Linked DNA regions of Homo sapiens: regions 2 and 3 are each linked to region 1. The links come from fine-mapping of genetic effects on gene expression. A gene starts in region 1. Each other region holds a variant in brackets. All regions are shown on one strand. Distances are from middle to middle.

Region 1 (4,000 bases):
CTCAGGGCCCCAGTTATTGCATGCTCACCACGTATAAGGCACCCAAACTTGGTCATTTAGATTGAGTCTTACTCAGGCCTGTGAGGGAGGGATTCTTTCCCCCATTTTGCAGAGGAGGAAACTGAGGCAAAATCCTGCCCATGGCCACACAGCTGGTCAGGGGCAGAGTGGGAACTTGAACCCCGGCCTCTTGACCGACTTCCCTCTCGGTCGGGTGATTCTCCTCACGCTGCTCTTTCCTCCAAGCTTTCACCAGCTGCAGGGAGCAGTTTCTGCAACAATCTCTATAAAATGGGGCAATTACGGGTCAGCTGGGCCCAACACTCTTTGTGGGTTTGTTCACTGAGACTCCAGCCAGAGCCCGTTTGACCCAGGGAGAAATATCCACTGAAGCAACACGGGTTGTTTTCCCTGAGCCATATGTCACCTAGGAATGGAGACGGGGGCTACTTCTATCTTCCAAATTCATCAATAGATGTAGAGCTTGTTCCGGAATGTACAGCTTGTTCTGGAATGTAGAGCTTGCTCCGGAATGTAGAGCTTGTTTTGGAAAAAGTGCCAGGGAAGCCCCGTGGGCCTCTGTCTCTCCGGGAACCCTTCCCGCTCAGGGCTCACAGTGGATCCGGAAGCACAGGAGACCAAGAGACCAGAGATACCAGGATGAGAGATAGGACCCCTGGTTGCCAGGTTCGAGAAGTCCTAGGCTGAGTCCCTGGAAAGTTAGTCTTGCTCCTTTCTGGCACACAGTGGGGCCTCAAGAAAGCTCAGTGGATGGATGGATTGAGGGAGGGAGGGAAGAGAAGGCCGAGGGAGGGATGGATGAAGGGATGAGTGGATGGATAGGTGGGGGGGTAGGTGATGCATGGGTGAGTGGATGGATGGGTAGATGGATGGCTGATTAGATGGATGGCTGATTAGACAGATACAAGGATGGGTGAGATCGGAGGATTATCTGGGTTTTGCTACAGGAAGGGACATGGGTGTGTCTGTTTTTGCAGGTGTGTCTGCATGTCTGTACCTGAGTCCATGCCTGCATGTGTGTCTACCTCTGAGTAGCCACATCTTTGTGTGTCTGTGGGTGCCCTCTCTGATTTTGCGTCCACATCTGACAGTGGCATTGGTGTCTAGGAGGTCTGTGTGTGTGCCAGGTGCCTCTGGACACCTGCTCATCTGTGTCCACAGCTGTGTGTGGCTCGCGGTCAAGGCTACCTGGCTGTGTCAGGCTGTATCTATGTCCTGGTGTGTGTCTGCCATTCGAATCTGAATTTGTATCCATGTCACTGTGTCTGCGTGGCCAGCCGTGTTTGGTGTATCTGTGGGAGTGTATCTGTGTTTGTGTGTGTATCTCCACAGCCCTGTCTTGGTGTGTCTGCGTCTGCTCTCTGTGTATGTATATCTGAGTATGTGTGTGAGTGTGTGCGTGTGTGTGTGTGTGTGTGTGTGTGTGTGTTGGGGGTGGGGAGGTGTTCTTGATCCCAGATCTGACCTAAGAGTCCACATCTGTGTGTCCAGGTGCACCCCGGTTCCGTTGTGTGTTTCTATGAGGGTGCTGCGTGTGTCTGTATCTGAGTGTGTGTGTCCAGGTGTCTGTTCTCCAAGGTCTGAGTCTGTGGGTCCAGGTGTGTCTGTATCCTGGGCTAGTTGTGTGTCCCTGTCCGCTCCCCCAGGGGGCGCCCTCGTCCGGCCGCCGTCCCTCCCTCGGGCTCCGGTCCCCTGGGTGAGCCCCAGCGCTGGCGGCGTGGGCCCGGGACTGGGCAATGGGTGGCCTCCCAGGTCGCCGCCTTCCCGCGGGGCCCCGCCCCCGGCCCGCCCCAAAGCGGGCTATAAGTTAGCGCCGCTCTCCGCCTCGGCAGTGCCAGCCGCCAGTGGTCGCACTTGGAGGGTCTCGCCGCCAGTGGAAGGAGCCACCGCCCCCGCCCGACCATGGCCGAGGGTGAGTATCAGAGTCACCGCAGCCGCCACTCAGGGGCCCCGGGGCATTGGGGGTCAGGACCCGGTGGGAGCTGAATCCCTAAGTCCTGATTTGGAGAGCAACAGGCAGACCGGGCTGGGTGAGGAGGCGTCTCAATGCTGCTTGGAGCCTCAGTTTCCCCATCCACACTGCATAACCATTAACCCTTGCCTCCCTGGATCAGGTGAGGCAATGGAACGCGACGGGGTGTTGTAAACTGTAAAGTACTGTCCTGGCGGACCACTGGCACGTGTCCTCAGTCAGTCAGTGGGGGCTGGCTCTCTGATGTGTGCCTGGAGCTGTGCAGGGGGTGCTGGCCTGGCCTCAGAACACTTAGGTTTGGGTGGTTCTTGCCAGCCAGGACCAGGTGGTGTGCATGCCACGCCGGTGGTGTGCAAGCCAAGCCTGGCTGAGTCCTTGGCTCCAGCGGCCAGAGAGGAGCTTTCGGCATCCTATCCAGGAGCCTTCGGAAATCAGGCTTGTTCTTCCCGCCCTCACGTTCTGCAACCCTAGACCTTGGCCAATTGTTGAGTCTCACCTATAAAATAAGGACAACAGTGTCCTTATTTTATAGGACAAGGTTTATGAGATTTGTTTTCCCCCAAGACCCCCACCCATCTGTCACCCTGACCGTGCCCTGGTCCTCTGCTCCAGCCTTTGGTGCATCTGTGAGGAACGAGAGGAGTGGAACAGAGGCTTAACTAATTTCATACTGGTGCCCCTGACTCCCTCCCCACACACAAGCAGCACTCTCGTAGGTCCCAGCTGGAGGGATTTCTACAATGGAGGATGTCACTGCTGGACCCAGAATCCCAGCTGGCTCTTGGGTCAAGTTCATCTGGGGATGGCTTCTGCACCCATTGCAACCCCCAGGAAGGGGTGTGGGACAGGGACATGGGGCAGGTGGAGCAGGAATGGGTGGCAGGAACTGTGGACCCACCTGACCCTGCTGTGTGATCTCAGCCACCTGCCTCCCTCGGGCCCAGCTCCCAACACACTGTGATGTGTCGCCTCGGTGGCCGCTTGTCCTCAATGCATCTTCTCACCCCCATGCTCAAAAGCAGGGCTCAGTGGGGCTGGGAGATCCTGGAGATGCCAGTTATGATGAGCCTCCAGCCCCATGTCACAGTGGCCACTTCTGACAGAGGTCTCACTGGCCTAGAAGGCCTAGGCCCTTTCTAAGTGCAGAAATCCTATAAATCCTACAATTCTAGACCTGCATCTTTGGAGCTGGGCGTGATTTCTGGAAACCCTTCTTCGGACAACAGATGGAGAAAATGCCCCAGCTCCCACAGCCCAGGGACTGGCCGTATCTCCAGGGTCTTCCATGGGAACAACAATGGCCTCTTTCCTGCTCAAGCTCCCTGGGTCTGAAGTTTCCAAAAACATTTCCTCGCCGCAATAGGCCAGCAGGAAGTTTTTCCTTCTGGCCACTGAGGTCTCTTCTGTTGTGATTACACGGGGACCGACATCCCTGATACTTCAGTGGCGCAGAACTATCTGCCCCCAGGTTTGAGAACAACACAGGACATGGTGGCGAAGGGGTGGTCATAAGAGGGGCTGGAGAAAAAACTGAGCTGTAGTGAGGTGGTTCCCAGGGCAGAATCCTACAGAATCCTACAGCTCTGGATTCCAATCCCAAAGCAGCCACTTGCTCTGGGACCTGGAGCCACCTGGTGTCTTTGTCTACAAAATGGGAATCATGATAGCATCTATGTAAGCGGAGTTGTTTTGGGATTTAAGTCGAGATAATTCACATACAAGGCACTTTGCATCTCATTTTTGGAATAGTCGATGGTGAGCAGGAGACCTGGGCTCTCCCACTGCAAGGACCAACTTGCGGCGTGACTTTGAACAAATTCCTGCCCCTGGGCCTCACTTGGACCACATGCTGTCCAGTGGCTCCACACTCAGAGTCTGTCTTGCCCACTCCTCCCACCTTAAGGGCTTCCCCATCCTGACCTTGAGCTTGCCAAGGTTTATGAGATTTGTTTTCCCCCAAGACCCCCACCCATCTGTCACCCTGACCGTGCCCTGGTCCTCTGCTCC
Region 2 (4,345 bases), 50 kb after region 1:
TAGAGAACAGCCTAGAACTTAATAGAAGTTTGTTTGTTTCTTTGTTTTTTGAGTAAACACAAAATGATTAAATGATGATGGCTTTAGTTTCTACCATGACTGTCCAGTCAAAGGTTTTAAAAGGAGATGAGACTTACCTCCAGATTTGGGAGGATGGGTACAGATAAGTGAGGATTAGCAATCTAGATGGGGCACCGCAGGAAGGAAGGCATGTTACCTTACAAATATCTACTGGGAACAGAAACCATGAAAAGTACCAGCAGAATTAAAAGAGAACCAAATACTGATGGTTGCACAACATTATGAATGTATTTAGTACCACTGAACTGTAAACTTAAAAATGGTTAAGATGGTAAACTTTATGTTACATATTTTTGCAACAATTTTAATAACTGAAAAAATAGAGAAACCCAAATAGAACTTCTAGAAATGAAAAATACAATAACTGAAACATAGAAGTCGATGGTTGGGTTTGATAGAAGATTAAACAGAGCTAAAGAAAAACACGAGTGAGGCAGAAGATAAATGATCCAGAATATAGTACAGAGAAGTAGATAGGTGTTAAACATAAAAGAGAAGTTGGGAGACATGGAAGAGAGGCTGAAAATATCTGACATCTATTTAATAGCAGTTTCAGAAAAATACAAGAGAGAAAATGGGGCAGACACACTAACTGAAGAAATAATGACAGAGAACTTTCCAAAACTGATGAGAGGTACTAATCCACAAATTCAAAAATCCCAACAAATCTCAAGGAAAGTGATAAGAATAAATCCACGTCTAGACATCACAGTGAAGGAGAAAAACATCACAGACAAAGAGAAAAATCTAAGGAGCAACCAGAAAATAAGAAAAATAACCTTCAAAGAAATGACAGAGTGATGAAGACTTCTCAACAGCAACAACAGAGCCAGGTGATAGTAACATGATACATTCAATGTGCTGAAAGAAATTAACTACCCAACTAAAATTCCATGCTCATCAATATGTACTTCAAGAATATGGGTTAAATAAAAGCATGCTCAGACAAAAAAGAATAGAGCACATTCTGCTTGTTGAAACTTGTTACAGTGTACACTTTATGTAGAAGAAATACGAACACTGATGGAAGGCTTGAGATGAAAGGAGAAGTGAAGAACAAAGAAATGATCAATCCATCTGCCAGTCTAGCTGAGCACTGACTACATAAAACAATAACATTAATGTCTTGTAGAGTTTATCTTTTTTAAAAAAATAATTAGAATACACCAAAACCATGGAGTATATGTCAAATTAGAGTAGCAGTGTTCTAAGGCCTGGAAGAAGAGCAATGGTACTGATTATATTTAGACTTCAGTAAGTTAAATATTCATGTTGTAATTTCAATGATAACATTAAAAGAATAAAAACAGTGCATAATCCCCAAACTAGTGGAGAGGGGAAATAGAACGCAAAAGTAATCAGTTCAAAATGGGAAGGAAGGAAGGAAGGGAGAAAGGGAGGAGGCGGTAAGAAGAAAGGAAGGAAGGAGGAAGGGAGGGAGGGAGGGACAGAGGGAGGGGAGGGGAGAAATCACAAAATAAGCTAGTGGGTTTGCACCCATATACATTGATAAATTATATTAAATATCAAAAGACCAAATGCTCCAGTTAAAAGATGAATATTCATGAAGATTAATTAAAGAGAAATGGCACAAAAATATTAGAAATAAAAAATGAACATCACTACAGATGCTGCCAACATTAAAGAAAAAAGAGGCTATTTTGAAAAATTTTGATCCAATAAATTTGAAATTTTAAGTGAAATAAGCAACATACTAGAAGGTATAACATTCCAATTTTGATTTAAGACAAAATAAAAAACCCTAGATAGTCCTTTAACAATTAAATAAATTGAATCAGTTGTTAAAACCCTTCCAGTAAGAAAACTTCAACCTCAGATGGCTTCATTGGTAAGTGCTATCTAACATTCATCTTTGATAATCTCTTCCAGAGAATAGAAAAAGAGTGAATAAACTCCAATTCATTGTATGAGGCTGAACTACCTCGGAGGCTGAGGTGGCGGTATCCCTTGAGCCCAAGAGTTCAAGGCTGCAGTGAGCTATGATCAAGCCACTGCACTCCAGCTTGAGTGACAGAGAATGAGATCCTGTCTCTTAAAAAATGAATAAATAAAAAATGAATATTAGCCTCCCAAAATTCAACATTATTAAAAAATACCACAACCCCCTAGAATTCATTCTTCTCCCTGCAGCCAGAGGGAGTTTCTCAAACATAAATCCAATCATGCATGCCCTTGCCTAGCCATTCAATGTCTCCCTGTTGTCCTTACTATGAGCTGCATGGTCTGGCGCACTCCTGCCTCTCTCTGTCAGTTCCCCAGTCACCCATTCTGCTGTAACCAAACTGGACTTTTTTGATTTCTCAAAATATCCCAAACTCTTTCCCTCTTCAGGGCTTTTGCACAAAGCTATTCTGTGGTGTTCTACTTATTTCTTATACTCTAAAAGTTAGAGACATAACATAGTAATTTATTGCTGGGGATGGTGGCTCACGCCTGTAATCCCAGCACTTTGGGAGGCCGAGGCAGGCAGATCACTTGAGGTTGGGAGTTCGAGACCAACCTGACTAACATGGAAAAACCCCGTCTCTAATAA[A/G]AATTCAAAAATTAGCCAGGCATGGTGGCGGGCGCCTGTAGTCCCAGCTACTCGGGAGGCTGAGGCAGGAGAATTGCTTGAACCTGGGAGGTGGAGGTTGCAGTGAGCCGATATCACACCACTGCACTCCCGCCTGGGTGATAGAGTGAGACCCCATCTCAAAAACAAAAACAAAACAGTAATTTATTATGTTTCCGGGGTTGACTGTGCCCAGTTGAGTGTTTCTTTCTGCAGCTGCAGTCAGATGGGGGCTAGGGCTGCAGTCATCTGAAGGCTCGAGGGCTGGATGGAAGACAGCGCATTCATATGGTGGGCAGTTGACGCTTGCTGTTGGCTGAGAGCCCAGTTACATGGTTGGCCACTCCATGTGGCTTAGAATTCTCCCAGCATGGCAGCTGGATTCCAAGAGGAAGTGGCCTAAGAAACAGAGTCCGAAGAACCCAGAAGCAAAAGCTACTGGAGTAATTAAAGGTTACATCCAGAAATAACACAGCATCACTCCTGCCTTATTCCATTGGTCAAAGCAATCACAGGTCCCACCCAGAATCAAGGCTGGAGAAATAGACTCCATCTCTTGCTGAAGGAGTGGTGAGTCACACTGCATAAGAGTGAATGTGATGGGAGATACTGCTCAAGCCATCTTTGGAAAATGCAGTTTGCCATAGCTAGTCTCTTCTTGTCATTTATGCCTGCCCTTAAATGTTTCATGACTTTCCCTGTCCACCCTATCAAGGGTAGTCACTATGTCATGTCACTCTATTTTAATTTTTGTCATAGCCCGTATTATCATCTGGCATTATGTGATATCATTGTATAATATTTGCCTTCCTACAGCTGAACCTAAGCTCCTTGAGAGTTGGGACTTTGTCTTGCTCAGTGCTATGTTGCTCCTTCCTCATGAGGGCAGGGCGTATGGTAGGTGCCCAGAGACTTACTGAATTATTGAATGAAGCTTCTGGGGGAAGGTTTGCACTCGGCAGGCAGGAAGCTCTTTTGAACATCCAGGGATGAACCTCGTGAGAACAGGCTACTGCACATGTCATTGAGTTCCCTATTACTGGCAGGGTTCATGCAGGGACAGGATGGGCTGCCTCCAGGAGTGCCAGAGAAAGAACCTGGACTCAGAGGGAGAGGCTGGTCCTTCCCCATGCTGGACCTCAGCTCTTCTCACCTTGGGAGCCAGCCTCTCTTCTTACCTTTGGCTCCTCTTCAAGTCAACCTGATCCCTCTGGTTTCTGGGGATAATGAGCCAGGATTTATGGCTCCACTTCAATCCCTAATATTGTCACTGTCCATTCAACCTCCCCTAGGCTCTGCTTTCGCAGAAAACCCACAACGGTTATTTCTCCTCCCTTTCCCCTAACCCCGCCCCACCAGGCTTATCTTCCTATTTCAAGTTTTCTGGCAGAGAACACGGCTCCCCCATGTGGTGGGCATTGGGCTGGAGGCCTCTCCACACACAAACTTGAGGGAGGTCACTCTGTTAGAAGCCTCCAAAGGCGCCCCATTGCCTAGAGGAATGTTTTCTCCATACCACAGGCCCTTTGATTAAAGCGAATCCTTCCTTGAACCACCACAACCACCACCACCACCACACTGAGCTCTCACTGTGTGCCTGGCACTGTGTTCTGAGCTTTGCCTGTTTGACCTCACTGAATTCTCCATAATTCCTCAGGAGACAGGGGTTATTATTGGCTCCTCAGGTCACAC
Region 3 (4,000 bases), 29 kb after region 1:
CGTCTGCCGCCTCCTGCTCTGTGCCCGCACCGTCAGCTACAATGGGATCTTGGGGCCCGAGTGTGGCACCAAGTACCTGCTCAACCTCAACCTGGAGCCTTTCTCTGGTAAAGCCCTGTGTTCCTGGAGCATTTGTTGACCGCCAACTGACAACATGCTAGGTAGTGACCTAACCACTTAGCATGTGTGATTTCACCCCACAGACACTTACATGGCGCTGACTCTGGGGCAGGCCCTGTCCTAAGCACTTTATAAATATCAACCCACTTAATTCTTATTGCAAGAGTGAGGGGGTGGATTCTAACATGGCTCCGTTTTCCAGATGAGTAGACTGAGGCACAGAGAGGTTAAGTAATTTTCTTAAGGTTGCACAGTTGGGGAGTTAACCTGTCCTCACAGCAGCTATACTGTTTGGTTTCACCTCATCTTCGTGTGACCCCTGACTGCTTTCACAGACCCTCTGCTGCCCTCTCCCAGTGAATTCCACTGTCTCCAGCCCCTCATGCCTCAGCAGCCTCTCTCCATGGGCCCTTCGAGAACCTCTCCTGTGCCTCTGGTTGCTCTCGGCCTCAAAGAAAAGTCTCTAACCCAGCGCCTTGGAAAGTGCCTGTTGCACTTTCCACAGTGATGGAGACGTGCTGAGTCTGCACCGCCTATCCAGCATGGCTGCCACCAGCTGCACGTGGCTGCTAAGCGCTTGAAATGTGGCTGGTGCAACCGTAGAACTAAAGTTTGTTTGTTTGTTTGCTTGTTTTTTTATTTTTTTTGAGATGGAGTCTTACTCTGTTGCCCAGTCTGCAGTGCAGTGGCACGATCTCAGCTCACTGCAATCTCAGCCTCCCAAGTAGCTGGGATTACAGGCGTGCACCACCATGCCCAGCTAATTTTTGTGTTTTTAGTAGAGATGGGATTTCACCATGTTGGCCAGGCTGGTCTCGGACTCCTGGCCTCAAGTGATCTACCTGCCTCGGCCTCCCAAAGTGCTGGGATTATAGGTGTGAGCCACCGCACCTGGCCAAAACTAAAGTTTTAATTGTGTTGAAAGTTAGACAGCCACATGTGGCCAGAAGCTGCTATGTTGGGCAGAGCAGATCGGCGAGCCAAAGGTGGGAGCGTCCAGGCCTCTGCAGGGAGAAGTGCTTTCTTCCTGGACTTGATTGTCCCTCTCCAGTGTCCCCAGCACCAGCCTAGTTGCCTTTTTAGGCAGATCCCCTTCGCAGTGACATGGTGTCATTAGACCACCCAACCCAGCCCCGAGCCAAGACTTTGTCACCAGGCTTCCTGCACAGTGGTTGTCCTCTGGGTCCCTTCCACTGTCTGGCTTTGTCACTGTGCCTGGTTATCTTCCTAAATATAAGCTTGAGGCCCTCAGAGGAGCCGTGGCCACTGAGGTCACATAGCGAGGCAGTGAGGGACCAGGAATCAAGCCCAGGGCTCCGCCCAGCAGCCCCACCACCACCCAGCAGCCCCATCCCACTTTCTGCCATTTGGAGCCCTGCAGGTGTGAGGAGGGCAGAGGGGTTTCCAGGCTAGGAGAGGACCTGGGAGCTGCAGAATGAGACATTGGCCATCCTCTGAGGGGCAGTGGAATCAAGTAGGACATCGTCTTTGGGCAGCATCTCGCTGTGTCACCAGAGCAAATGGCCACTCCCCTGCACCTTAGCGTCCCCATCAGGCTCCTGGGGGTCATGATCCAACAGTGCAGGACCATCGGGGGTAAGAGAGTGTGCACACAGTAGGCACTCATGCCTGGGATTCAGTGTGGCCACACCTGGAGATGCTGGAGAGCCCTCGGGTGGGGCATGGTTTGTGTTTACAGAGTTTGTTTCCCCGTCTGTTTTCCCCGGACTCCTGCCTGTCAAACCAGTGGTCGTCCCTCTCCTCTATGACAGTGCCTGGACCCTTGGTGCCCATGGGCTGGCGTCTGGGGCACAGCTTTCACCCTCCTAAGAAAGCAGGTCTGTGTTGCGGGCGGGGCGTCTGCAGTGTTGACAGTTGCTGCCTCCTGGTTTTTCTATCTTGGGCCCACCGTGGGCACTCCTGGAGCTGCACGCCCTGGGCACACCCACTGTCCGGCCC[G/T]GGGCAGACTCCTCAGCAGGGGCCAGGCCCTCAGAGGGCAGATCCTCTTGGTACCAGGACAGGGCCCAACACTGAAGCTGTTGAAAGACATTTCCCGAGGCCAGGAAGACCTGGCTTTGAATCTCAGCTCTGCTGCCCTCTGAATGCACCACCTTGGGCGCGGTGAACATGCTCTCTGAGTCTTAGGTCATGCTCGCCTGTTACATGGGGTGATGACATGCCTGCCTGATGCGCCCGCAGCCGTGAGGACTGAGGGAGAGGATGCGTGCTCAGGAGGTATCTGGAAAGGGCACAGCAGCACCAGCACACGGTGGGGCCCTCACTCCTCCCTGAGTGCGAGTGCTAAGAGGCGTGGGGAGGCGAGAAGCCCGGGACCTTTCCTGAACACCTTCTGTCCCAGGCAGTGGTGTCAGCCCTGGGCTCGGGGGTTCCTGTGTCCCTGACACCTCGGTGGTGTAGAAAGGACCCGGCCCTCGCTGCTCATCCAGGCCCCGAGAGTCCGAGACAGGATCCATCTCTACAGGCGTGTGGGGGTTCAGGACACAAGGACACCCAAGTTCTAGTTCCTGCTGCCTGCTGCCTGCTGCCTGGCTGTGGGCTCCTGGGTATTCCTCTCCTCCAGCAAGGCTATGGGTTCCCCATTCACACAAAGGGGAAGGTGCTTTCCTCTTTTAAGAGCCCTTCCAGCCCTGTTTTGTGTGTGTGTATGTGTGTGTGTGTGTGTGTGTGTGTGTGTATACATTTAGGAGGTCCAAGTGCGGTTTTGTTACACGGATATATTGAGCAGTGGTGAAGTCTTGGGCTTGACATTGGAGACCCAGTCCCATCGTTTCAGTGCACACCCACCAGCTCCTTCTCGTGCTCAGAGCTGCTCCAAGGGGAGAAAGTGTCTGTCCTAGAATGAGTGGCATGAGGTGAACTCCAGGCCTGGGCCAGACACACCAAAATCACTTCCTCCCAGGCCTCTGTGGAGTCAGCCCTCACCTCTAAGTCACCATCGGGACCCTGAGAGCATTGTTCCGCACTGGCATCAGCCAAGCATGCTGACTTTTCTCATCCTCCCAGGAACATGCTCACCACAGAGGGTGAGCAGCAGGTCCCTCCTGTTGGGGATCCACTGGAGACATAGCCTTCAGGGAGAGGAAGGGGAGGACAGAAGGTCCTGGGCATTGGCCTCTGGCTGGAAAGTGAGGCTGGTCCAAGTCCCCTGTTGGAACCTCCAATGCCAAGCTCAAGCTGAGATGCGTTCCCTCTAAGCCCCCATACTGTGGTTGAGTTACTTGTTATTCTTTGATGATAAGATCTGGGGAATTTCCGTGTGCTGGTGGACAGGAAGCCAGGCCCTGGATGGCTGAAAGGAATCCAGTTGCCCCCACCCCTGCCTCCTTTCTCTGCTGCTTCTTTCTCTTCTCCTTCCTGCCTCCACCCTTTCATGCTCTCTCCTCCCTCATCCCTCCAGGTGGGTCACAGGAATGCAGCCAATGTGGCCTCGGTGACTGTCCCCAGAGTAACCTTCTAGAACAGGGCAAATTGTCTAAAGAATGGTTGAGACTGACCATACAGGTTTCCTCTTCCCAGCCAGCATCTGGCCCAAGACCAAGGCCGTGGCCACTGGCTTGTGGACGGAGACTTTCAAAGGTCCAGCCCTGCCCTGGCCTCCACCTCCTAGAATAGTCGACAGTTGGGCCACATCCTCCAAGCCCCCGGAGGATAATGTTTTTCTTCTTTCCTGTGGAGCTAGCTAGAATTTCCACTCTGCACCACCAGGTCTTGACCTAGTAATTTTCACCCTCTTTTGTCCTTTTTGGCACAAAAGTTTGGTTTTCTTCCCCAGATCACATCATCTGATGAGAGGTTGGAGCAGATCCACCCAGGGAATGAAAGGCCAAAGAGGTGGGCAGGTCGGGGCAGCATTTTCCAA

Which allele goes with the higher level. Positions count from the first base shown, and alleles are read on the strand shown. Sizes are in standard deviations (SD) of each study's normalised expression. Not every link is listed here.
For the expression in subcutaneous fat of the gene that starts at base 1,852 in region 1, allele A in region 2 goes with a lower level than allele G (moderate effect, 0.41 SD a copy in GTEx).

Evidence for each region. PIP is the estimated chance that this variant, and not a neighbour inherited with it, causes the effect.
Region 2: its variant is the best candidate, but not a certain one, in a credible set for the expression of TGM2 in subcutaneous fat (GTEx, PIP 0.60).
Region 3: its variant is the best candidate, but not a certain one, in a credible set for the expression of TGM2 in whole blood (TOPMed, PIP 0.52).

The regions. Positions count from the first base shown.
Region 1 is chr20:38,163,122-38,167,121 of GRCh38, reverse strand. TGM2 (transglutaminase 2) reads left to right here and starts at 1,852. Exons shown (of 13, transcript NM_004613.4): 1 at 1,852-1,933. The coding sequence starts at 1,924. RefSeq lists a silencer at 1,560-1,999.
Region 2 is chr20:38,113,327-38,117,671 of GRCh38, reverse strand. LOC124904899 (a long non-coding RNA gene) reads right to left here. Exons shown (of 2, transcript XR_007067580.1): 2 at 2,794-3,052. Among named protein-coding and RNA genes, the nearest start is that of TGM2, 50 kb to the left of the region's middle. The variant A/G (reference allele first, on the strand shown) is at 2,636.
Region 3 is chr20:38,134,220-38,138,219 of GRCh38, reverse strand. It overlaps TGM2 (transglutaminase 2), which reads left to right. Exons shown (of 13, transcript NM_004613.4): 10 at 1-107. Among named protein-coding and RNA genes, the nearest start is that of TGM2, 29 kb to the left of the region's middle. The variant G/T (reference allele first, on the strand shown) is at 2,080.